Linked DNA regions of Homo sapiens: all the other regions are linked to region 3. The links come from fine-mapping of genetic effects on gene expression. A gene starts in region 3. Each other region holds a variant in brackets. All regions are shown on one strand. Distances are from middle to middle.

Region 1 (4,091 bases), 250 kb before region 3:
ACCAGTAGAGTGGGGTGTTGCTGAAAAGATACCTGAAAATGTGGAAGCAACTTTGGAACTGGGTAACAGGCAAAGATTGGAACAGTTTGGAGAGCTCAGAAGAAGACAGGAAAATGTGGGAAAGTTTGGAACTTCCTAGAGACTTGTTGAATGTCTTTGACAAGAATGCTCATAGGGATATGAACAATAAGGTCCAGGCTGAGGTGTTCTCAGATGGAGATGAGCAACTTGCTGGGAACTGGAGCAAAGGTGAGGCTTGTTATGTTTTAGCAAAGAGACTGGCAGCATTTTGCCCCTGCCCTAGAGATTTGTGAAACTTTGACAGAGATAATTTAGGGTACCTGGCAGAAGAAATTTCGAAGCAGCAAAGCATTCAAAATGTGACTTGGGTGCTGTTAAAAAGCATTCTGTTTTAAAAGGGAAACAAAGGTTAGGCACGGTGGCTCATGCCTGTAATCCCAGCACTTTGAGAGGCCGAGGTGGGCAGATCACAAGGTCAGGAGATTGAGACCATCCTGGCTAACACGGTGAAACCCCGTCTCTACTAAAAATACAAAACATTAGCTGGGCACGGTGGCGGGCACCTGTGGTCCCAGCTACTTGGGAGGCTGAGGCAGGAGAATGGCATGAACCCGAGAGGCAGAGCTTGCAGTGAGCTGAGATCCCGCCACTGCACTCCAGCCTGGGCGACAGAACCAGACTCCATCTCAAAAAAATAAAATAAAATAAAATAAAATAAAATAAAATAAAATAAAATAAAATAAAACAAAACAAATGGGGAACAGAGCATAAAAGTTCAGAAAATGTGTAGCATGACAATGCAGTAGAAAAGAAAAACCCATTTTTTGAGGAGAAATTCAATCCGATTGCAGAAATCTGCATAAGCAGCAAGGAGCCTAATGTTAATCCCCAAGACCATGGGGAAAATGTCTCCAGGCCATGTCAGAGACCTTCATGGAAGCCCCTCCCTTCACAGGCCCAGAAGCCCAGTAGGAAAAAGTGGTTTCATGGGCTGTGCCCAGGGTCCCCCTGTTGTGTGCAGCCTAGGGACTTGGTGCCCTGAGTCCCAGCCACTCCAGCCATGGCTGAAAGGGGCCAATGTAGAGGAGCTCAGGCTGTGGCTTCAGAGGATGGAAGCCCCAAGTCTTGGCAGCCTCCATGTAGTATTGAGCCTGTGGATGCACAGAAGAACTGAGGTTTGGGAACCTCTGCCTAGATTTCAGGCCAGGAAACGCCTGGCTGCTCAGGCAAAAGTTTGCTGCAGGGGTGGGGCCCTCATGGAGAACCTCTGCTAGGGCAGTGCAGAAGGGAAATGTGGTGGTGGAGCCCCCACAGAGTCCTTACTGAGGCACTGCCTAGTGGAGTTGTGAGAAGAGGGCCACCGTCTTCCAGAGGCCAGAATGGCAGATCCACTGACAGCTTGTACTGTGTGCCTGGAAACGCCGCAGACACTCACCGCCAGTCCGTGAAAGCAGCCAGGAGGGAGGCTGTACCCTGCAAACCACAGGGGCAGAGCTGTCCAAGACCATGGGAACCCACCTCTTGCATCAATGTGACCTGGATGTGAGACCTGGATACAAAGAAGATTATTTTGGAGCTTTAAAATTTGACTGCCCCACTGGATTTCAGACTTGCATGGGCCCTGTAACCCCTAGGTTTTGGCCAGTTTCTCCCATGTGGAATGGCTGTATTTACCCAATACCTGTACCTGCATTGTACCTAGGAAGTAACTAGCTTGCTTCTGATTTTACAGGCTCATAAGTGGAAGGGACTTGCCTTGTCTCAGATGATACTCTGAACTGTGGACTTTTGGGTTAATGCTGAAATGAATGAAGACTTTGGGGGACTGTTGGGAAGGAGTGATTGGTTTTGAAATGTGTGGACATGAGATTTGGAGGGGCCAAGGACAGAATGATATGGTTTGGCTGTATCCCCACCCAAATCTCATCTTGAATTGTATCTCCCAGAATTCCCACGTGTTGTG[G/A]GAGGGACCCAGGGGGAGGTAGTTGAATCATGGGGGCCAGTCTTTCCCATGCTATTCTTATGATAATGAATAAGTCTCACGAGATCTGATGGGTTTATCAGGGATTTTTGCTTTTGCTTCCTCCCATTTTTTTCTCTTCCCACTATGTAAAAAGTGCCTTTCACCTCCCACCATGATTCTGAGGCCTCCCCAGCAATGTAGAACTGTAAGTCCAATTAAACCTCTTTTTCCTCCCAGTTTCAGGTATGTTTTTATCAGCAATGTGAGAACAAATTAATACAGTACCCATAATAATTAAAAATACTTTAAAACAAAAAATAAATAACCAGAAGTCCACTTTTAAAGTATGTCCTCAATAGGACTTTTTAAATTATTATTATATTTTAAGTTCTAGGGTACATGTGCACAATGTGCAGGTTTGTTACATATGTATACATGCACCATGTTGGTGTGCTGCACCCAGACCACAGTGCAATCAAACTAGAAATCAGGATTAAGAAACTCACTCAAAACTGCTCAACCACATGGAAACTGAACAACCTGCTCCTCAATGACTACTGGGTACATAACGAAATGAAGGCAGAAATAAAGATGTTCTTTGAAACCAATGAGAATAAAGACACAACATACCAGAATCTCTGGGACACATTTAAAGCAGTGTGTAGAGGGAAATTTATAGCACTAAATGCCCACAAGAGAAAGCAGGAAAGATCTAAAATTGACACCCTAACATCACAATTAAAAGAACTAGAGAAGCAAGAGCAAACACATTCAAAAGCTAGCAGAAGGCAAGAAATAACTAAGATCAGAGAAGAACTGAAGGAGATAGAGACACAAGAAACCCTTCAAAAAAATCAAGGAATCCAGGAGCTGGTTTTTTGAAAAGATCAACAAAATTGATAGACCGCTAGCAAGACTAATGAAGAAAAGAGAGAAGAATCAAATAGATGCAATAAAAAATGATAAAGGGGATATCACCACCGATCCCACAGAAATACAAACTACCATCAGAGAATACTATAAACACCTCTACACAAATAAACTAGAAAATCTAGAAGAAATGGATAAGTTCCTGGACACATACACTCTCCCAAGACTAAACCAGGAAGAAGTTGAATCCCTGAATAGACCAATAACAGGCTCTGAAATTGAGGCAATAATTAATAGCCTACTAACCAAAAAAAGTCTAGGACCAGACGGATTCACAGCCGAATTCTACCAGAGGTACAAGGAGGGGCTGGTACCATTCCTTCTGAAACTATTCCAATCAATAGAAAAAGAGGGAATCCTCCCTAACTCATTTTATGAGGCCAGCATCATCCTGACACCAATGCCTGGCAGAGACACAACAAAAAAAAGAGAATTTTAGACCAATATCCCTGATGAACATTGATGCAAAAATCCTCAATAAAATACTGGCAAACCAAATCCAGCAGCACATCAAAAAGCTCAATAGGACATTTTTAAGAAATGTCATGAGACCTCAATGAAGATATATTGTTTTCAAATCATCTAGAAAGTTTTAGGACACTTCTGTAAGAGTCTTGAGTGATATATCACTTCAGCATTTAGCTCTCCAGACATCTGCCTGTCATCTGTATGCACCTAGTTTTCTTTAGGAAAATTTTGACTTCACCCTCACCAGTAAACAGAACTCAGCACTGCACAAGACAATAGTAAGAAATCAGGTTTTATTAAAAGATTTTAAGAAGATAAGGAGAAGAGATTTACATTAGTCACATTCCCTGGTTGTCTAGTGGTTAGGAAAAAAAATACACTACTCACATACTTCCATAATGTTCACAGAAATTGGAGATTCAAAAAAAATGGACTAAAATAGTATTTAAACTCTTCCTACCAACAAAAAGTCTAGAAGTGCTACATAAAACATAACCATCCTTAGGTTTTTTTTTTTCTTCTTCTTTCTTTTTTTTAATTTAGCTTTACAGGAAAGAGAAATCCCTAGGTGCTAGAAGATAAAAAGAAGCTAAATATTAGAGTAGCATGAGTTTGCTCTGAATTAGACTTCCCTGGAGGATAGGTGTAAAGCTTGGCAGTTAAGAGTTGAGGTTTGTTTGGGATTTTTTAAATTAATTTTATTGATTAA
Region 2 (4,091 bases), 50 kb after region 3:
TAATAACCATCATTTTACTTTCTGCTTCTGTGATTCTGACTTTTTAAGATTCTACATACAAATAAGATCATGCAGTATTTGTCTTTCTGTGCCTGGCTTATTTCACTTAGCCTTAAGACAGGCTCTCACTTTGTTGTCCAGGCCAGAATGCAGTGGTACAATCATAGTTCACTGTAGCCTCAAACTCCTGGGCTCAAGGGATCCTCTTGCCTTAGGTTGCTAAGTAACTAGGGCTACAGATCTGAGCCACCATACCTAGCTAATTAAAAAAAAATTTTTTTTTGTAGAGACAGGGTCTTGCCATCTTACCAAGGCTGGTCTTGAACTGGGCTCAAGCAGTCCTCCTACTTCAGCCTTCCAAAGTGCTAGGATTACAGGTGTGAGCCACTGTGCCTGGCCATTTCCTTAGTTTTTAAGGCTGAATAGTATTTGATTGTGTTCATATACTACATTCTCTTTATCCATTCATTTGTTGGGGTGGACACTTAGGTAAATTCCATATTTTGGCTATTGTGAATAATGCTGCAGTGAATATGGGAATGCAGATGTCTTTTTGACATACTGATTTCCTTTTCTTTGGATATATATCCAGAAGTGGAATTGCTGGGTCAGGTCATATGGTAGTTCTGTTTTGGATTTTTTGAGACATATCCATATGGTTTACCATACTGGCTGTACTAATTTACATTCCCACCAACAGTGTGCAAGGGTTCCTTGTCCTCACATTCTTGCCAACACTCATCTTTCATCTTTTTGATAATAGCTATCCTGAGCGTGAAGTGATATCTCATTGTGATTTTAATTTGCATTTCTCTGATTAGTGATGTTGAACATTTTTCCATATACCTGTTGGCCATTTGTATGTCTTCTTTTGAGAAATGTCTGTTCATATCCTTTGCACATTTTAAAATTGGGTTGTTTTCTTACCATTGAGTTGTATAAGTTCCTTATATATTTTGGATATTAGCTTCATCAAATGTATGGTGTGAAAATGTTCTCTTCCATTCCATAGGTTGTCTCTTTACTCTGTTGATTGTTTCTTTTCCTATATAGAAGCTTTTTAGTTTGATGCAATCCAGTTTGTCTATTTTTGTTTTGTTGCCTGTGCTTTTTGATCATATTCAAAAAATCTTTGCGAAGACCAATGTCAAGAAGCTTTTTCCTATGTTTCCTTCTAGTAGTTTTACAGTTTCAGGTCTATATTTAAGTCTTTAGTCCATTTTGAATAGGTTTTTGTATATGGTATGAGATAAGGGTCTAATTTCATTCTTTTGCATGTGGATATCCGGTTGTCCCAACAGCATTTATTGAAGAGACTGTCCCTTCCCCTTGGCATCTTTGTTGAAAATCAGTTGACTGTAAATGGATAGATTTCTGGGCTGTCTATTCTGTTCAGTTGGTCTATGTATTTGTTTTTTATGTTGGTAGCATTTTGTTTTGATTGAGATAGCTTTGTAGTAGATTTTGAAATCAAGTGTAGTGTGATGACTCTGCCTTTGTTCTTTTTGCTCAAGATTGCTTTGGCTATTTGGAGTCTTATGTAGTTCTGTACAGATTTTAAGATTATTTTTTCTATTTCTGTGAAAAATGTCATTGGAATTTTGATAGGGATTGCATTGAATCTGTAGATCACTTTGGGTAATATGGACATTTTAACAGTATTAATTCTTCCAATCTGTGAACATAAAAGATATCTTATCACTTATTCGTGTCTTCTTCACTTTTTTTTTTTTTTTTTTTGAGATGGAGTCTCACCTTGTCACCCAAACTGGAGTGCAATGGCGCAATCTCAGCTCACTGCAACCTCTGCCTCCCAGGTTCAAGTGATTCTTCTGCCTCAGCCTCCTGAGTAGCTGAGATTACAGGCGTGCGCCACCATGCCCGGCTAATTTTTTTTATCTTTAGTGGAGATGGGTTTTCACCATATTAGCCAGGCTGGTCTCAAGCTCCTGACCTTGTGATTTGCCTGCCTCAGCCTCCCAAAGTGCTGGGACTCCCAGTGTGAGCCACTGC[G/A]CCTGGCCTACTTTCTTTCATCAGTGTTTTATAGTTTGCAGTGTACATATCTTTCATCTCCTTGGCTAAATTTATTCCTAGGTATTTGATTGTTTTTGATGCTGTTATAAATGAGATTGTTTCCTTGATTTTTTGTTTTGTTTTGATAGTTTGTTGTTAGTATACAGAAACATGGCTGGGCATGGTTACTCTTGCCTGTAATCCCAATGCTTTAGGAGGTGGAAGGATTGCTTGAGCCCAGAATTTGAGAAGAACAGCTTGGACAACATAGTGAGAAGCCATCTCTATTAAAAAACAAACAAACAAAAAAACAAAACAAGAAAAAAAAAAACGAATGGTACTGATCTTTGTGTGTTGATTTTGTATCCTGCAACTTTACTGAGTTTGTTTATTAGTTTTAAAAGCTTTTTGGTGGTGTCTTTAGGGTTTTCTGTTTATAAAATTATGTTATCTGCAGAGACAATTTAACTTCTTCTTTTCTGATTTGGATACTTTCATTTCTTTTTCTTACTTAATTGCTTTGGCTAGGACTTCCAATACTACGTTGAAAAGAAGTGGCAAGGGTGGGTATATTTTTCTTGTTCTTAATCTTAAAGGAAAAGCTTTCAGCTTCTCACCATTGAGTGTGATGTTAATTGTGGGTTTGTCACATACGGCCTTTTTGTGTTGAGGTACAGCACATTCCCTCTATGCCTAATTTGTTGAGAGTTTTTATCATGAAAGGATGTTGAATTTTGTCAAATGCTTTTTCTGTATCTTTAGAGATTACCATATGATTTTTCTCCTTCATTCTGTTAATTTGCTGTATCAATTTATTGCTGAACCATCCTTGCATCCCTGGGATTAATTCCTCTTGCTCGTGGTGAAGGATTCTTTTAATCTGCTGTTGAATTCAGATTGCTGGTTTTCTGTTGTGTATTTTTGCATCCATGTTCATCAGGGATATTGGCCTGTAATATTCTTTTCTTGTAGTTTCCTTGTCTGGCTTTGGTATTAGTATAATGCTGACCTTGTAAAGTGAGTTTGGAAGTATGCATCCCTCTTCAGTTTTTTGAAGTTTTTTTTTAGAGTTTCACTTTGTCATAAAGGCTGGAGTATAGTGGCACAAGCATGGGTCACTGCAACCTCAATCTTGTGGGGTGGGTTCAAGCAATCCTCCAACCTCAGCCTCCTGAGTAGCTGGGACTACAGGCATGTGACACCACACCTGCCTAATTTTTATTTATTTATTTTTATTTTTTGTAGAAACAGGGTCTCACTATGTTGTGCAGGCTTGTCTTGAACTCCTAGGCTTAAGCATTTCTCCTACCTCAGCCTCCTGAAGTGCTGGGATTATAGGCATGAGCCACTGCACTTGGGCTTTTTGAAGAGTTTGAGAATTAGTATTAGTTCTTTTTAAAGTGTTTGGTAGAATTCAGCCTTGAAGCCATCAGGTCCTGGGCTTTTCCATGATGGAAGATTTTTTATTTAATTACTGATTCAGTCTCCTTACTTGTTATTAGTTTGTTCAGATTTTCTATATTTTCATGATTTAGTTTTGGTAGGTTGTACATTTTCAGGAATTTACCCATTTCTTTTAGATTATCCAATTTATTGACATAACTGTTCATCATAATCTCTTATAATCCTTTGTATTTCTGTGGTATCAGTTATAATGTCTCCTTTTTCATTTCTTATTTTGAGTCTTCTCTTTTATTTCTTTTGTAGTCCAGCTAAAAGTTTGTCCATTTTTTTTATCTTTTCAAAGAACCAACTTTTAGTTTTGTTGATCTTTTCTATTGTTTTTCTTGTTTCCATTTATTTCTGCTCTGATCTTTTTTGTTTACTCTTTCTACTAACTTTGGACTTTAGTTCGTTCTTCTTTGTCTAGTTCTTTGAGGTGTAACATTAGGTTGTTCATTTGAGATCTTTTTTCTTTTTTAATATAGGCATTTATTGCCATAAGCTTCTTTCTTAGAACTGCTTTTGCTGCATTTTGTAAGTTTTGGTATATTGTATTTCCACTTCTGTTTGTCTTAAGATATTTTTAAATTTCCCTTTTAAGTTCTTCTCTGACCCATTGGTTGTTCAGGAGAATG
Region 3 (4,091 bases):
AAACATTGCCTTTTATTTTCTTGGTAGTTATTTCTTAAAAGTACTGTGTGCACAGAAAGAGCACACTGAATGCTTACAACAACCTAATTATGGAAAAGCAATAAGCCTCCTGAATCCTTTGCCCTTGAAATTTCCTTGCCTGGTGCTCATAACACACTTTGAATAGGTCTTGAAACCACGGGCCTTCAGCCTAAGGCAGTATGTCATCTGGGTACTCTGAGCAGGGAAATAATGAAAAATAATGTTCAGTTAATGGCACAAGCCATTCGCCACTCAGACAGTGATGGTTTTCAGAGTGGATTGAAAGGAGATTGGCTACTTCTGCTTCAAAACATCCTGGAAATTGTCTGCCTCCTGAATTCTGAGGGACGCTTGGGAGGAGGAGTTGATAGGTGACTTAATGTTAAATCTGGGTTCCCTCCCCCAATTGTCACTGTGAAAATTTTCAAACATACAGAAAAGTTGAAAGAATTGCGCACTGTGCCCATTACCTAGACTCTATTATATGGACCCCTATTTGCTTTATCATATCTCTGTTCATCCACCCTTTACCCATGCATGGAGGCATCCATACATCTTATTTTTGATGTATCTCAAAGTACAAAGAGCACCATTAGAGTTCAATGCTTGTGATTTTTCTTTTTTTAAAAATTTTTGAGGCAACATTTATATCCAGTGAAATGTACAGATCTCAAGTGGATCATTCCATCAGTTTGACAAATGCCTGCAAGGTGGAACCCAAGCTCTTATTAGTATCTGTTAAATCCATGTTAGAGGTTGATCAGAGAAGCACAGCCTTTAAGACTCTCACCCTGCTTTGCGGAGAATGGCAAAAATCTGCGAAACATCTCAGCAGAGCCAGGAGAGAGTAACACTGGTAACGTGAAGCACGTCAAGCTAAGAAAGGAAGCACTGAAATTAATTGTCCTGAATGGAACCTGATAAGAATCTGCCATTTCATCCCCTCAAGACTGGACTCAAGTTGGGAGAGAATATTGCCTTTTGCCCTGTCTAAGCTAATATCACTGTTTAGATCTACAAACTCCCCCACCTCCCAATGTTTATATATTAACCTGCATTACAAGTCAAAATAACACAGAGAATCTGGAAAAAGAAGAAGGGGAATGTTTCCCACGAAAAGCACACCCCTTAAAGCGTCTGGCCTGAGAGCTATACAGCATGCATAAAATCTGATAATAAGCACATTATGACCCACATTGCATATAACAAAAAGTAGGGCACTTCTGAAGGGTCCTGAGAAAAAGCCCTGGGCTTTTAAAACCTGCTTAAGAAGGCGATCAACGGTACACCACTTTCAAACGCAGCACTGACTTGTATGCTCCACAGTCATCAACAGTGAAAACAACAGTTTTCAACAAGAGTTGGAAACACTGAGTTGAGGGTTTTTTTTTTCTTTTTAAAGTTTGAGGCCAAAATCGATATTTATTCTTTTGAATTATGCTTATATCTTTTTCCTGGTTAATACGCACGCGGTGGCACAATTTTGAAAACTACGTAACGTTATAGAACCACCACCCAGAAACGAATCCTGTTAACAAACTTTTTGTATTCAAACTTTTTCCACTGCATAGTTTTTGACAATGCTTTTTAGACAATCTTTCTTTTAGCAACCAGCACTTTCAAACAAAAATTACAGAGAATAGTAAGTTTTTTTCCCCTCCTCCGGCAGATTTGACCCAGAAATTGCTATGGGAAGAAAGTGTTAATTATATTAAAAAATAGTTTGACAGAAAGTATTTAAAAAGAGAAAGGGAGAACATCACGTCTTTATTTTGGTGAATTAGCAACAAAGAAAAAGATTAGCATGGACGGGTACTTTTCAAAAATATATTTTTTTTCCTCTGGCTCCCGCTAGGGTGGAGGAAGTTGTCTCTCTGTCAGAGACAGGGTGGAAGAGAGTGAAAGGACAAATGATTGAGAGGCTGCCCCCTCCCACTGGTGCAGGCGTGCGGGGGTCGGATGGGGGGCCGCGGAGGGGGGAGGTGGCCAGCAGGTGCCTGGGCTCCAGGCCCCTACCCCCACCCTCGTCCCCACCCTCACCCACACCCAGGGATTGGCCTCGCCCCCTGGCGGGCGAGCGGTAGGTGTCGAAGCACTGGGGTGGGGGGTGCAAACCCCGCGGGCAGCGGAAAAGAGGCCGTGGGGGGCCTCCCAGCGCTGGCAGACACCGTGAGGCTGGCAGCCGCCGGCACGCACACCTAGTCCGCAGTCCCGAGGAACATGTCCGCAGCCAGGGCGCGGAGCAGAGTCCCGGGCAGGAGAACCAAGGGAGGGCGTGTGCTGTGGCGGCGGCGGCAGCGGCAGCGGAGCCGCTAGTCCCCTCCCTCCTGGGGGAGCAGCTGCCGCCGCTGCCGCCGCCGCCACCACCATCAGCGCGCGGGGCCCGGCCAGAGCGAGCCGGGCGAGCGGCGCGCTAGGGGGAGGGCGGGGGCGGGGAGGGGGGTGGGCGAAGGGGGCGGGAGGGCGTGGGGGGAGGGTCTCGCTCTCCCGACTACCAGAGCCCGAGAGGGAGACCCTGGCGGCGGCGGCGGCGCCTGACACTCGGCGCCTCCTGCCGTGCTCCGGGGCGGCATGTCCGAGGCTGGCGGGGCCGGGCCGGGCGGCTGCGGGGCAGGAGCCGGGGCAGGGGCCGGGCCCGGGGCGCTGCCCCCGCAGCCTGCGGCGCTTCCGCCCGCGCCCCCGCAGGGCTCCCCCTGCGCCGCTGCCGCCGGGGGCTCGGGCGCCTGCGGTCCGGCGACGGCAGTGGCTGCAGCGGGCACGGCCGAAGGACCGGGAGGCGGTGGCTCGGCCCGAATCGCCGTGAAGAAAGCGCAACTACGCTCCGCTCCGCGGGCCAAGAAACTGGAGAAACTCGGAGTGTACTCCGCCTGCAAGGTACGCGCTCGCCGCTCTCGGACCGCGGATGGGTGCTAGGGGCCCAGCCCGCGGGACCCCCCTCCCCCTCCCGCTTCCACCTCCGCCTCCCGCCTCCTGCCTCTCGCCTCCCGCCTGGGGCCGCTGCACCGCGGAAGTGCTCTTGTCGCCCGCGCCCAATTAGCTTCTTCTTGGATAAGAGTCCTGCTGGGTTTGAAGAAGGGGGATCACTAAGACGGAGAGCCCTTCATTCCTTCCGCTTGAAAGGAGTAGCTTCGGCATCCGAGCTCCCGGGCTACCTTGGGGTTTTGTTGCTCTGTAGGAGCTCGCTGGAGTCACTTTCCCGGGAGTGGAGCGGTGCTCTCCATGTGGCGGGTGACCCAGGGGCAAGGAAAAATCTTTTGGGGGACTGAGTGGTCCCTTCTGCAATCGATCCCTTCCTGTGTCCCACTGGGAGGAACTGGGTGCAAGGAGTGGGGGTGGAGAAGACTCCCGGACTCCTGGCGCTTTGGGAAAGCGAAGGGGAGGAAAGCGCGGGGTGGGAAGGTGGGCAGAGTCCGAGGCGAGGGTCTTGTGGTGCCTGGCGCCCTCGGCTGGGGGCGGAGGCACTGCCGCGCGCGGTGACAGCCCTGTCATTATTGTATTATTACTTGTTTAGTTAAAACGCTGTCCCAGCTGCTCGAGGTGTAAACAGGATTTGGCAAAGTGACAGCCCAGCGCGGCGGGCGCTACTGCTCAGTTTGAGGACACCCATTTCTTGCTACCCACTCTCCATGCCAGTTTAGGCACCCTGTCACCTCCAGCTGCAGATCCAGATGTGGAGGCTGTGTTCCCGAGGTGGGAGGATTGCCCGAGGCCGCGGGGCAGGCTGGCCCTGCGCTGTCAGCAGCGGCTTTGTTTTGACAGGGTGACAGCTGAGGGGGGCGGGGACTTGGCCTTGTCAGCTCCTGCGGCCTGTGGCTGAGGCAGGGAAGAGACACACTCACACACACTCACACCTCCCTGTATTCTTCCTGCCTGCTGTAAAGAGGGTCAAGTTCCCAGATTCCAGATTCCCGATTGTCACAACCAAGCTGCAGTGACCACTTCTGAATTTTGACATAACTATAATTTATTCTACTAGAACATCTAGGTTATACTCTTCTTGGTACTTGCAGGAGCTTCTCAGTCACAATGGAATGTCTATGCTTGCTCTTTTTCCACACCATATGCTCAGG
Region 4 (4,091 bases), 120 kb after region 3:
GAGAGGGAGACTTTGAGGTTTTCATTTTACCTGGACGAACAATTTATATTTTCAGAAACTAAGAAGTAGAAACAAGATCAGACTGAGGTACTGTGGACCAGTTAATTATTTGTCACCCCTTTAAGCTAATATTCTTTAGACTAACCCTCAGTGTTTATTTAAAAGGATTCTAAGTGCCGCACAAGGAAGGGTAACTGGTGGCAGCTCTTGTCGTTAGAGCTATTCTGCTCTATCCCTTAACTAGCATTCTCCTCTTAGCAAAGTGAAAATGCCAAAGAAAAGCAATCAGCTATTCTGGAATATCAAAGGTCAGAAATGGTTGCAAGTTCTTACTTAAGAGGTAGTAATTAGGTTGATACTTTTTTCATCTGTTGAAATATAGGTTTACAATTCTTGACCATTCAGACATTTTTTCCTGGCAGAAAAAAGGTATCTGTGTAGGGGGTAGTGGAGGGTGGACAGGGAAGGTGGTGGCAGGGACTGAAATAGATGGTTCTGAGTCTTAAAGCTGCTGGTATTAAAGTGGTATTTACTTTCTCCTTTGGGTGTATCAGTGCTATCAATAAGTGATGATGAAGATTGACAGGATGAAAACAATGTTACTAATGTCTCAGGTAAAGAGCTGAAAATGAATTTAAAGAGACAAAAAGAGCAAATGAAAGATTTCCAGGTATACTCTGGAGGAAGAGCTTCAACAAAGTAAAAAAAAGATGCTATAAGGAAGTGAGGAAACAACCATAAGCATTATGAAAGGTCCTCTTTAATGTATTTATGTATATATTTATGTATTTATATATAAATATGTAAATTCATATATATATAAATACATAAATATACAAATATATATATTTATATATTTATTTATGGGAACATCTTTACTTGTGGAAAAAGGAAGCTAACAATGACAAAGCTAGAGATTTTCTTTGGGTTTATTAAAAAGCAGTATTATTTCAACAAAGCAGAGAAAAATTAAAAGTCAAGCTTCCTGCTCCCTCTTCTTATTGGGAAGTCCGACAACTTTCACAGGATCAGGAGTTGAAAAAGATGAGAAATGATACGTGTAATTTGTGTGTGTGTATTTATATACATGTATATACATTTATATACAGTTATGTACCACTTAACGATGGGGATACCTTCTGAGATGCAATGTTAGGTGATTTTGTTGGTGTGTGAGCATCCTAGAGTGTACTTACACAGTCCTGAAGCTCCATAGTATGGCCTATGGCTCTTAGGCTAGAAACCTGTATAGCATTTTACTGTACTGAATACTGTAGGCAACTGTAACACAATGGTAAGTATTTGTGTATCTAAACGTATCTAAACATAGAAAAGGTGCAGTAAAAATATGGTATTATAATCTTATGGGACCACCATAGTATACACAGGCTATTGTTGTCCAAAGATCTTCATTTGACATGACTCTGGGTATGTGTATTAAATTTTATGAGCTGAACCAAGGGTTACCAGTCTCAGTTTATCTAGGTTTGAAGTTCTTTAAAAGAAATCCTGGAGAACTTGGAGGCTAAGGACCTTCTGAAAATAATGCACATGTTTACATGTGTGCACTTTCTGCATATCAGTTCACTTGGTCCTTGGACCCTCCTGAAGTTCATTGGTGAACCCCAGTTTAAGAATCTTTGCTCTCACTAGCCTGGGCAACGTAGTGAGACCGTATCTCTATCAATCAAAAAAACAAACAGAAAACATTTAGCCGAGTGTGGTGGTGCACAGTGGTGGTCCCAGCTACTTGGGAAGTTGAGGGGTGGGAGGATTACCTTAGCCTAGGAGGTCAAGGCTATGTGAGCCTTGATTGTACCACTGCACTCCAGCTTGGGTAACAGCGAGACTGTCTCAAAAAAAAAAAAAAAAAAAAAAAAAATCTTTGCTCTGTCAACCTGCCATCTTCTGCTGTTAACAGATGGACATCTAGTTTCTACTTAAAAACATCTGTGAATGGGAAATTTGCATTTTTATGCAATAGTACTGCCCATCAGTGGGACAGGCAAAGCTTTATAAGAAAGCCCGTAGGTTGGGTTGAAGTCAGCTGTTTATGATCAAGCTCTAATTCAAGTTTCCCACAGAGTACTATTAAGTTAGTGTGCCAGCACTGTTCCTATCCCTCAACACACCCAAGCATACTTGTACAGTTGTAGCTATGTGCACAACTCAAGATCCTGTCTACATTTTTAGGCTGGGCACAGTCGCTCATGCCTGTAATCCCAGCACTTTGGGATGC[C/T]GAGGCAGGTGGATCACCTGAGGTCAGGAGTTTGAGACCAGCCTGACCAACATGATGAAACCCTGTCTCTACTGAAAATACAAAATTAGTCGGGCATGGTGGCGCATGCCTGTAATCCCAGCTACTTGGGAGGCTGAGGCAGGAGAATCACTTGAAACTGGGAGGTGGAGGTTGCAGTGAGCTGAGATTGCGTCATTGCACTCCAGCCTGGGCAACAAGAGCGAAACACCATCTCAAAACGAAAAACATTTTTAAAAATTGAGGTATAGTTAACATACAAGAAAATGCACCAGTCAGGCCAGGTGTGGTGGGTCATGCCTATAATCCCAGTACTTTGGGAGGCCAAGGCAGGAGGATCGCTTGAGCCCAGGAGTTTGAGACCAGCCTGGCCAAACATTGTGAGACCCTGTCTCTATTAAAAAGCATAGGTCTTAGGTGCTAAGTTTGATGACTTTTGGCAATTGTCTACACCAGTATAATCACGACCCTAAAGACAGGACATTCTTATCACCTAAGAAAAGTTCCCTCGTGCCCCTTTCAGGTCAATTCTCCTTCCCTGTCTCCAGAAAACCACTTCTGATTTTTGTCACCATAGATTCGTTTTGTGTTACTTGATTTCATATAAATGGGGTCACAGTTTGTACTTCCTGGGGTCTGGCTCATCCACATTGTAATATGTATCAGAAGTTCATTCCTTTTTATTGCTGAAGAGTATACTATTGTAATATTCCACGATTTGTTTATCTTCTCAAGTTTAGTGGACATTTGGGTAGTTTCTACGTTTGGGTCTTACAATAAGCCTGCTATAAACATTTTTTTTGTAGGTCTTTTTGTAAACATATGCTTTCATTTCTCTTATGTGAATACCAAATAGTGAAATTGTTAGGTCAAGAAGTAGATGTGGGCTTAATTTTATAGGACGTTCCCCCTACCCTTGTATTAACCTGTGAGGCATTTTTTATTCCAGTTCCAATATTTACTGTTACCTATTCCTTCTAAGATTTACATTTATAAATTACGAATTTGTCAATTATATGTTTTCTCATATTCATGTTATTGAAAAAAATATTGAACAGGATGAGGGAGAGGATGAAACTTTCCATTATGATGCTGGATACCAATTTGCAAGATGCTAAAGATCAAAATCACTCGAGTGTGATCATGCAGGTGTATGTGAACTCACCTAACAATCCCGATCCAGGCTACATTTCCCACCTTTTCTATAATACCAAGCTGGAATAAATTTTAATTACTCTCTGTTTTACTTATTACATGTATCTTCTTGCACAAATGCTACTTCCCAACACCCTTTATGATGAAACACCATATTTATTATCTTGAGTCTTTTCTCATCAGACACTTTTTTTTTTTTGACAGAGTCTCACTCTGTCGCCCAGACTGGAGTGCAGTGGCGCGATCTCGGCTCACTGCAAGCTCCACTTCCCGGGTCCACGCCATTCTCCTGCCTCAGCCTCCTGAGTATAGACACATGCTTTTCTGCTCAAAGCTATAGTGAGGATGTGTTTAATGTATGTGAAGATGGTCTCAAGTGAATGTAAAACACTATATAAAAATTTTAACTTAACACTATAAATTTAAAAAAGGCTTTTCACCTAAATCAGTATTGAAGTATTGTTAATATGACTATTGTTTTATTTGTACTGGTACTAAGTAGGTTTGAATGAGCAGAAATAATTTAGTGCAGATAGTCAATCTGTGGATGCTGCATAGATTCCCATAACCAAGTAATTTCCTCAGGAATCTACCACTTATCGAGCACTTAGTAAGTGTTAAGCACTCTTCTAAGCATTTGATATGTACTAACTCACTGAATCCTTACAACAATTTACTT
Region 5 (4,091 bases), 190 kb before region 3:
TCCAGGTGCTCTGTCCCAGGGAGATGGCAGTTTTATCTAAAAGCCCCTGACTCGGGCTGCTGCCTTTCTTTCAGAGATGCCCTGCCCAGAGAGGAGGAATCTAGACCAAATGGATTTTTTAAAGTGGTATATATATACACATACACAATTGAATACTATTCCACCATAAAAAAAAAAGAATAAAATCCTGTCATTCATGGCAATATGGATGGAACTGGAGGATATTATGTTAAGTCAAATAAGCCAGAAATACTGAGACAGATGGGCCTGTAAAGTAATAAGGCCAGACACAGCGGCTCATATCTGTAATCCCAGCACTTTCAGAGGTCAAGGTGGGAGGATCACTTGAGCCCAGGAATTTGAGACCAGCCTGGGCAACAGAGGAAGACCCTGTCTCTACAAACGACAGGGTGGCCAGGCCTGGTGGTGCATGCCTATAGTCCTATCTACTCAGGAGGCTAAAGTATGAGGACTGTTTAAACCCAGAAGGTTGAGGCTACAGTGAGCCATAATCACACCCCTGTACTCTGGCCTGAGGGACAGAGTGAGGTCCTGTCTTAAATAATAATAATAATAATCATCATCATCATCATTATCATTATCATCATCAACATCATCATTACCTAGAAACAGAAAATTGAACACTGCATATTTTTACCTATGTATGGAAGCTTAAAAAGGTTGATTTCATGTAAGTTAAAAGTAGAACAGAGGATACTAGAGTTTGGGAAGAGTAGGGAGAAGGGAGGGATAGGGAGAAGTTTTTCAGGGATACGATTACAGTGAGATAGGAGGAATAAGTTTCAGTGTTCTATTCCACTGAATTACTATAGGTAACAATACATTATTATGTAGTTTCAAATAGCTACAAGTAGAACATTGAACATTGCCAAAACAAAGAAATGATAAATGTTTGAGATGATAAATATGCTAATTACTCTGATCTGATTACTGTACATTATATGCATTGAAATATCACTATGTTTACCATGAATATGTACAATGGTTGTCAATGAAAAAAATTAAAATATTACATAAAGAAACAAAATATTCTTTAATATTATAAAATATAATATGAATGAATGTTCTGTAGTAAATATAATGTTATTTAACATTCTTTTAAAAATTGGAAGCAACAAAGATAGCCTTCAATAGGTGAAAATGTGGTACATCCAGACAATGGAATGTTATTCATCAATAAACAGAAATGAACAAAAAAGCTGGCTGGGCACAGTGGCTCATGCCTGTAATTCGAGCACACTGGGAGGCCGAGGTGGGTGAATCACCTGAAGTCAGGAGTTCAAGACCAGCATGGTCAACATAGTGAAACCCCGTCTCTACTAAAAATACAATAATCAGCTGGCTATGGTGGCAGGTGCTGTAATCTCAGCTACTCAGGAGGCTAAGGCAGGAGAATCACTTGAACCCAGGAGGTGGAGGCTGCAGTGAGCCAAGATTGCACTCCAACCTGGGTGACAGAGTGAGACTCTGTCTCAAAAAAAATTAAAAAATAATACAGGATATGGATGAAAAATCTCCAGAGAAATAGATATTATAAATAGAAAACAATCACAACTTCTGGAAATGAAAGACACACTTAGAGAAAGGCAAAATATACTGGAAAGTTTCAAGAATACAAGCCAACAAATAGAAGAAAGAATTTCAGAGCTCAAAGACATGGCTTTTAAATTAATCCAATCTGACAAAGCCAAAAAAAGAGGAATTTTTTT[T/A]AAAAATGAGCAAAGCCTCTAAGAAGTGTGGAATTATGTTAAACAACTAAATCTAAGAATAATTGGTGTTCCTGAGGAAGAAAAGAAATCTAAAAGTTTGGGAAATGTCTTTGAGGGAATAATTAAGGAAACCTTCCCTGGCCTTGTTACAGGTCTAGACATCCAAATACAAGAAGTTCAAAGAACACCTGGGTAATTCATCACAAAAAGATTATCACCTAGGCATAGTCATCAGGCTATCTAAGGTAAACATAAAAGAAAGAGCCTTAACAGCTGTGAGGCAAAAGCATCAGGTAACCTATAAAGGGGAACCTATCAGATTAACAGCAGATTTCTCGGCAGAAACCCTACAAGCTAGAACGGATTGGCGTTCTATCTTTAGCCACCTTAAACAAAATAATTATCAGCCAAGAATGTCATATCCAGCAAAACTAAGCTTCATAAATAAAGGAGGAATAAAGTCTTTTTCAGAAAAACGAATGCTGAGAGAATTCACCACTACCAAGTCACCACTACAAGAAATGATAAAAGAATTCCAAATCTTGAAAGAAAAGCTCAAAACACACCAAAATAAAACTTCCTTAAAGCATAAATCTCACAGGGCCTATAAAACATAACACAATGGAAAAAGAAAAACAAAATGTTCAAACAACAACTAGCATGATGAATAGAATAGTATCTCAAATCTCAATACTAACATTGAATGGAAATGGCTTAAATGAGCCACTTAAAAGATATAGAATGGCAAAATGGATAAGAATTCACCAACCAAGTATCTGCTTTCTTCCAGAGACTCACCTAACACATGACTCACATAAACGTAAGAGAAAGGGGAGGAAAAGATATTCCATGCAAATGGACACCAAGAGTGAGAAGGAGTAGCTAGTCAATGTCAGACAAAACAGACTTCAAAGCAATAACAGTTAAATGTTAATGTCAATGTCAGACAAAACAGACTTCAAAGCAATAACAGTTAAAAAACAAAAAAAAATTAAAAAATTAAAAAGCAGCAACAGTTAAAAAAGACAAATATAATGATAAAAGGACTAGTTCAACAGGAAAATATCATAATCTTTCACCTAACACTAGAGCGTCCAAATTAATAAAACATATATGCATCTAACACTGAAGCTCCCAAATTTGTAAAGCAATTACTACTAGACCTAAGAAATAAGATAGACAGCAACACAATAATAGTGGAGGGACTTCAATGCTCCACTGACAGCACTAGACAGTTCATAAAGACAGAAAGTGAACAAAGAACAAATGGACTTAAACTATACCCTAGAAAAAATGGACTTAACAGATATTTACAGAACATTTTACCCAACAACTGCAGAATGTATCTTCTATTCATCAGCACATGGAATATTCTCCAAGATACATGATATCATAGGCCACAGAACAAACCTTAATAAATTTAAGAAAATCAAAATTATATCAAGTACTCCCTCAGACCACAGTGGAATAAAATTGGAAATCAACTTCAAAAGGAACCCTCAAAATCAGGAAAATACATGGAAATTAAATGATCTGTTCATGAATGATGTTTGGGTCAGCAATGAAATCAAGATGAAAATTTAAAAATTCTTTGAACTGAACGATGATAGTGACACAATCTATCAAAACCTCTGCAATACAGCAAAAGCAGCGCTAAGAGGAAAGTTCATAGCATTAAATGCCTACATCAAAAAGTCTGAAAGAGCACAAATAGACAAGCTAAGGTCACACCTCAGGGAACTAGAGAAACAAGGACAAACCAAACCCAAACACAGCAGAAGAAAATAAACATCAAAGCAGAAATAAATAAAATTGAAACAAAACAAACAATACAAGAGATAAAAGAAATGAAAAGCTACTTCCTTGAAAAGATAAATAAAACTGATAGATCATTAGCAACATTAACCAAGAAAAGAAGAGAGAAGAGCCAAATAAACTTTATTAGAAATGAAACTGGAGGTACTACAACTGATACCACAGAAACACAAAAGATCATTCAAAGCTACTATGAATACCTTTATGCACACAAACTAGAAAACCTAGAGGTGATGGATAAATTCCTGGAAATGTACAAACCTCCTAAATTAAGCCAGGAAGAAATAGAAACTCTCAACAGACCAATAACAAGCAATGAGATTGAAAAAAAAAAAAAAAAACTGCCAACAAAAGAAAGTCCAGGGCCAGATGGATTCACAGCTGAATTCAATCAGACAATCAAGGAAGAGGTGGTACTACTGAAACTATTCCAAAAAATAGAGGGAGAATCCTCCCTAAATCATTATATAAACCCATATTATCCTAATACCAAGACCAGGAAGGGATGTAACAACAACAACAAAAAAACAAAACAAACAAAAAAAA
Region 6 (4,091 bases), 24 kb after region 3:
AAAATATAATATATATAAAATATTTATTATGTATAAAATATAATATATAATATATTTTATATATAATTTATAATATATTATATATAACATAATAAATTATATATTATATATTATATATTATTATATATAATATATAATATATAGAAATTATATATATTTTATTTTATATATATATATATTAGAGGTAGTTTTGCTCTGTCACCCAGGCTGGAGTGCAGTGGCATGATCTCGGCTCATTGTAACGTCTGCCTCCTGGGTTCAAGCGATTCTCTTGCCTCAGCTTCCCGAGTAGCTGGGATTACAGGCATGCGCCGCCACGCCCAGCCAATTTTTGTGTTTTTAGTAGAGACGGGGTTTCGCCTTGTTTGCCAGACTGGTCTTGCATTCCTGAGCTCAGGTGATCCACCTGCCTCAGCCTCTCAAAGTATTGGGATTACAGGCGTGAGTCACCGTGCCTGGCCCATTTTCATAATTATTAATGATGTTGAGCATCTTTTCATGTGTTTATTGACCATTTGTATATTTTCTTTGGAGAAGTGTCTGCTCAAGTCCTTTGCCCATTGTAAAATTTCGTTGTTGTTGTTGTTGTTGAGTTGTAGGCATTCTTTATATATTTTGGATATTAACCTGTTATCAAATATATGGTTTGCAAATATTTTCTCCCATTCTCTGGGTTGCCTTTTCACTCTGTTGTGTATGTCTTTTGGTGCACAGAAATTTAAAGTTTTTCCTAATTCCAGTTTATCTGTTTTTCTTTTGTTGCCTGTGTTTTTGTTATTTATTTTTAGACAGTATCTTGCTCTGTTTCCCAGGCTGGAGTACAGTGGCACAGTCATGGCCCATTGCTGCCTCGAATTCCTAGGCTCAAGGGATCTGCCTGCCTCAGCCTTCTGAGTGGCTGTGACTGCAGGCGTGCACCACTATGTCCAGCTAATTTTTAAAATTTTTGTAGAGATGGAGTCTTGTTTGTTGCTCAGGCTGGTCTTGAACTCCTGACCTTCCCAGCGTGCTGGGATTATACACCTGAGCCACCACACCTGGCCGCCTGTGCTTTTGGTATTATATCCAAGACACCATTGCCTGATCTAGTATCATGAAGATTTTTTCTGTATTTTCTTTTAAGAGATTCTTTCTTTCTTTCTTTTTTTTTCTTTTGAGATGGGGTCTCGCCCTGTTGCTCAGGCTGGAGTGCAGTGGTGCGATCTCACCTCACAGCAACTTCTGAGTAGGCCTCTTTTTTTTTTTTTTTTTTTTTTTTTTTTTTGAGATGGTTGCTCTGTTGCCCAGGCTGGAATGTAGTGGCACAATCTCAGCTCACTGCAACCTCTGCCTCCCAGGTTCAAGCAATTCTCCTGCCTCAGCCTCCCAAGTAGCTGGGATTACAGACGTGAGCCACCATGCCCGGTTAATTTTTGTATTTTTAGTAGTGACAGGGTTTCACCATGTTGGCCAGGCTGGTCTTGAACTCCTGACCTCGTGATCCAACTGCTTCGGCCTCCCCAAGTGCTGGGATTACAGACGTGAGCCACCACGCCCGGCCGAGATTCACAATTTTATGTTGAAGTCTTTCATCTATTTTGAGTTCATTTGTGTGTGTGTTATTAGCTAAGGGTCCAGCTTCATTCTTGTGCACACAGATACCTAGTTTTTCCAGCACCATTTATTGAAAAGACTGTCCTTTCTCTATTGAATGGTCTTGGCACACTTGTCAAAATCATTTGACCATTATCTGTGAGGGTTTATTTCTGGGCTATCTATTCTGTTCCATTAGTATATAAGAAGCTAGCAAACTGTTTTCCAAGGTGGTTGTACCTTGTTACATCCCACAAACACTGTATGAGGATTCCAATTTTTCACATGCCTGATAATTTGTTATTGTC[A/G]GCTCCTTTTGAAAAAAGAACTTATTTTGTGTTTAATTGACACCTAATAATTATACATATTGATGGGGGCATAGTGTGGTGTTTTGAAACATGTATACATTGTGTAATGGCCAAATCAGTGTAATTAGCATGTTCATCACCTCAATCACTTGTCATTTCTTTGTGATGAGAACATTCAAAATCCTCTCTTGTAGCTATTTTGTAATATGCAATATATTATTGTTAACTATAGTCACTCTGCTGTGCGATAGAACACCAGAATTTACTCCTCCTATCTATATTTGGTTAGAGAGATCTTATTGGGTGAGAAGTTACGGTTTTGATCCTTGACATTTAAACATTATGACTTTGTCCAGCATGGAGCAGAGAGGTAGTGAATAAGAGTGAGTCCTTCCTCTCTCACAACCACAGTGCCAGTTACCTGCCTGGACACATTTTGTGCATCTGCAGGGTAGAATGAGTAACCCCAGGCAAGTCTCTTATCACCTAGAGCCTCAGCTTTCTCTTTTAATAATGGCAATAATTCATACTTTACTTACATCGAGTGAGATAAGAGTACATGTACATTTTTAATTTTGGGTGCTAAATAAATGTTGGATCAGTTATACTGAATAAATTTTCCATCAACGTGTTCTTGCTGTGGGACATCCTTGACACTAATTTAAGTTTTCCAACAAATGCGACTTTCCAATATTTTAAGCATGACAGAATTTTGCTAGACAGCTGGCTGTCTTTCTCCTGTTCCTCTGGATGCCACTCAAATATCTTCACACCCATCTCACTCATTAACACTGCGTGAACTGTGAGCTCTCCACCCCTTGTCTGTCTGTAATCTGGGTTGTGACTACTTGTTTATCCAGTTTATCTTCTTTCTCATCATCCATCCTGGTTTCTGCATACTATAACAACATCGGTTGCATACTATTGACCTCTAACCCTGGATCCTGTTGGGATGAAAACATTATCCCAGTCCTGTTGAAAGTAGTGCAGTGGCCTTTTCTTCTTTCTTGGTTCTGCAATGTCTGCAGAGATGTGCTCTTGGGGGGATGAAGTCATCTGGGTAGCTTTCCCCTCCCTGTGCCCAGGTTGCTAGCTGCTACAGTAATTGGCTTGGCAGTGCACTCCCTAAAAGGTTGTCCTTCAGCTGGTACTTCATTAAAGCTGCAAGGCCAACTCCCTTGGGAGTTCCCTTAGACAGCAGCTGTCATGCCTAATTAAGGAGAGACATGGGAAAGGTGTTTTGAAAGGAGACCTCTTATCTCGAAGAACAGTGGCCAGGCCTGAACATTGGAATGGGGAGATGAAGGCCAAAGTGGAGGGCATGGTAGCAGCAGCTCAGAAAACTTGGCAGAAAATGCTTTGCTGGCAGTCAAGGATAAGAGCATTGACTGTTTTTTAAAGGACACAGTATGTCCTTTTTAGCAAATCAAGTAACGAGTCCCATATATATTAAAAATTTTGTACACTTAGGTTGTTAGGTGTCCCATGGAGCATGCACACATGCAAGAACCAATTTTCATATCCTGCAAAAAATACTGAAACAAGTAAGGAAAACTCAAGGGATTCTCATATATATCAATAGGGTATAACTTTAAAGAGTTAGGACCACTTAGGGATGCTGAGACTATTCTATGCTTAAACTGTTAGGGTCCATAGTGAAGACCTGGGGCTTGGGGGTGGAGTCCCTTTATAGTCTAGTGCACCAATATCCAATAGTAATATGGAGGCCGCATGTATTATTTAACATTTTCTAGTAGTCCTGTGTATTAGTTTCTTAGGCCTGTCATAACAAATAACCACAAAATATGTGGCTTAAAACAACAAATACAGTTTTTTTTTTATTCACAGTTTTGGAGGCTAGAAGTCTGAGATCAAGATGTCATCTGGGCCACACTCCTTTTGAAGGCTGTAGGGAAGAATCTTTCCTTGCCTCTTCCTAGCATCTGGTGGTGCTTGGCAATCCTTGGCATTCTTTGGCTTATAGTGAGACCCTGGTCTGTCTCATAGTGAGATCCAGCCTCTGCTTCTATCTTCACTTGGCCTTCTTTACTGTTTGTCTGTGTCTGTCTCCAAATCTCCTTCTTCTTTCTCTTAGGAAAACGCCAGTCATTGGTTTTAGGGCTTAGGATAATTTCATCTGCATGTCCTTAACTGATCACATCTGCAATGAACCTATTTCCAAATATGGCCCCATTTTGAGGTTCCAGGGGA

Which allele goes with the higher level. Alleles are on the strand shown, and positions count from the first base shown. SD is a standard deviation of normalised expression in the study named. Not every link is listed here.
As copies of T replace A in region 5, the expression in CD4 T cells of the gene that starts at base 2,561 in region 3 goes up (large effect, 1.4 SD a copy in CEDAR).

What was found. PIP is the estimated chance that this variant, and not a neighbour inherited with it, causes the effect.
Region 1: its variant is fine-mapped to the expression of KAT2B in whole blood (TOPMed, PIP above 0.99).
Region 2: its variant is fine-mapped to the expression of KAT2B in hypothalamus (GTEx, PIP 0.92).
Region 4: its variant is fine-mapped to the expression of KAT2B in whole blood (INTERVAL, PIP 0.99).
Region 5: its variant is fine-mapped to the expression of KAT2B in CD4 T cells (CEDAR, PIP 0.92).
Region 6: its variant is fine-mapped to the expression of KAT2B in whole blood (TOPMed, PIP above 0.99).

What each region holds. Positions count from the first base shown.
Region 1 is chr3:19,785,541-19,789,631 of GRCh38, forward strand. No RefSeq gene overlaps it. Among named protein-coding and RNA genes, the nearest start is that of EFHB, 150 kb to the right of the region's middle. The variant G/A (reference allele first, on the strand shown) is at 1,985.
Region 2 is chr3:20,087,679-20,091,769 of GRCh38, forward strand. The region is part of intron 2 of KAT2B (lysine acetyltransferase 2B); the gene reads left to right. Among named protein-coding and RNA genes, the nearest start is that of MIR3135A, 48 kb to the right of the region's middle. The variant G/A (reference allele first, on the strand shown) is at 2,014.
Region 3 is chr3:20,037,886-20,041,976 of GRCh38, forward strand. It overlaps KAT2B (lysine acetyltransferase 2B), which reads left to right and starts at 2,561. Exons shown (of 18, transcript NM_003884.5): 1 at 2,561-2,895. The coding sequence starts at 2,593. RefSeq lists silencers at 1,823-2,462, 2,633-2,762, 2,963-3,022 and enhancers at 2,186-3,156, 3,873-4,062.
Region 4 is chr3:20,155,396-20,159,486 of GRCh38, forward strand. No RefSeq gene overlaps it. Among named protein-coding and RNA genes, the nearest start is that of SGO1-AS1, 17 kb to the right of the region's middle. The variant C/T (reference allele first, on the strand shown) is at 2,240.
Region 5 is chr3:19,846,999-19,851,089 of GRCh38, forward strand. No RefSeq gene overlaps it. Among named protein-coding and RNA genes, the nearest start is that of EFHB, 85 kb to the right of the region's middle. The variant T/A (reference allele first, on the strand shown) is at 1,731.
Region 6 is chr3:20,062,301-20,066,391 of GRCh38, forward strand. All of the region lies in intron 1 of KAT2B (lysine acetyltransferase 2B), which reads left to right. Among named protein-coding and RNA genes, the nearest start is that of KAT2B, 24 kb to the left of the region's middle. The variant A/G (reference allele first, on the strand shown) is at 1,881.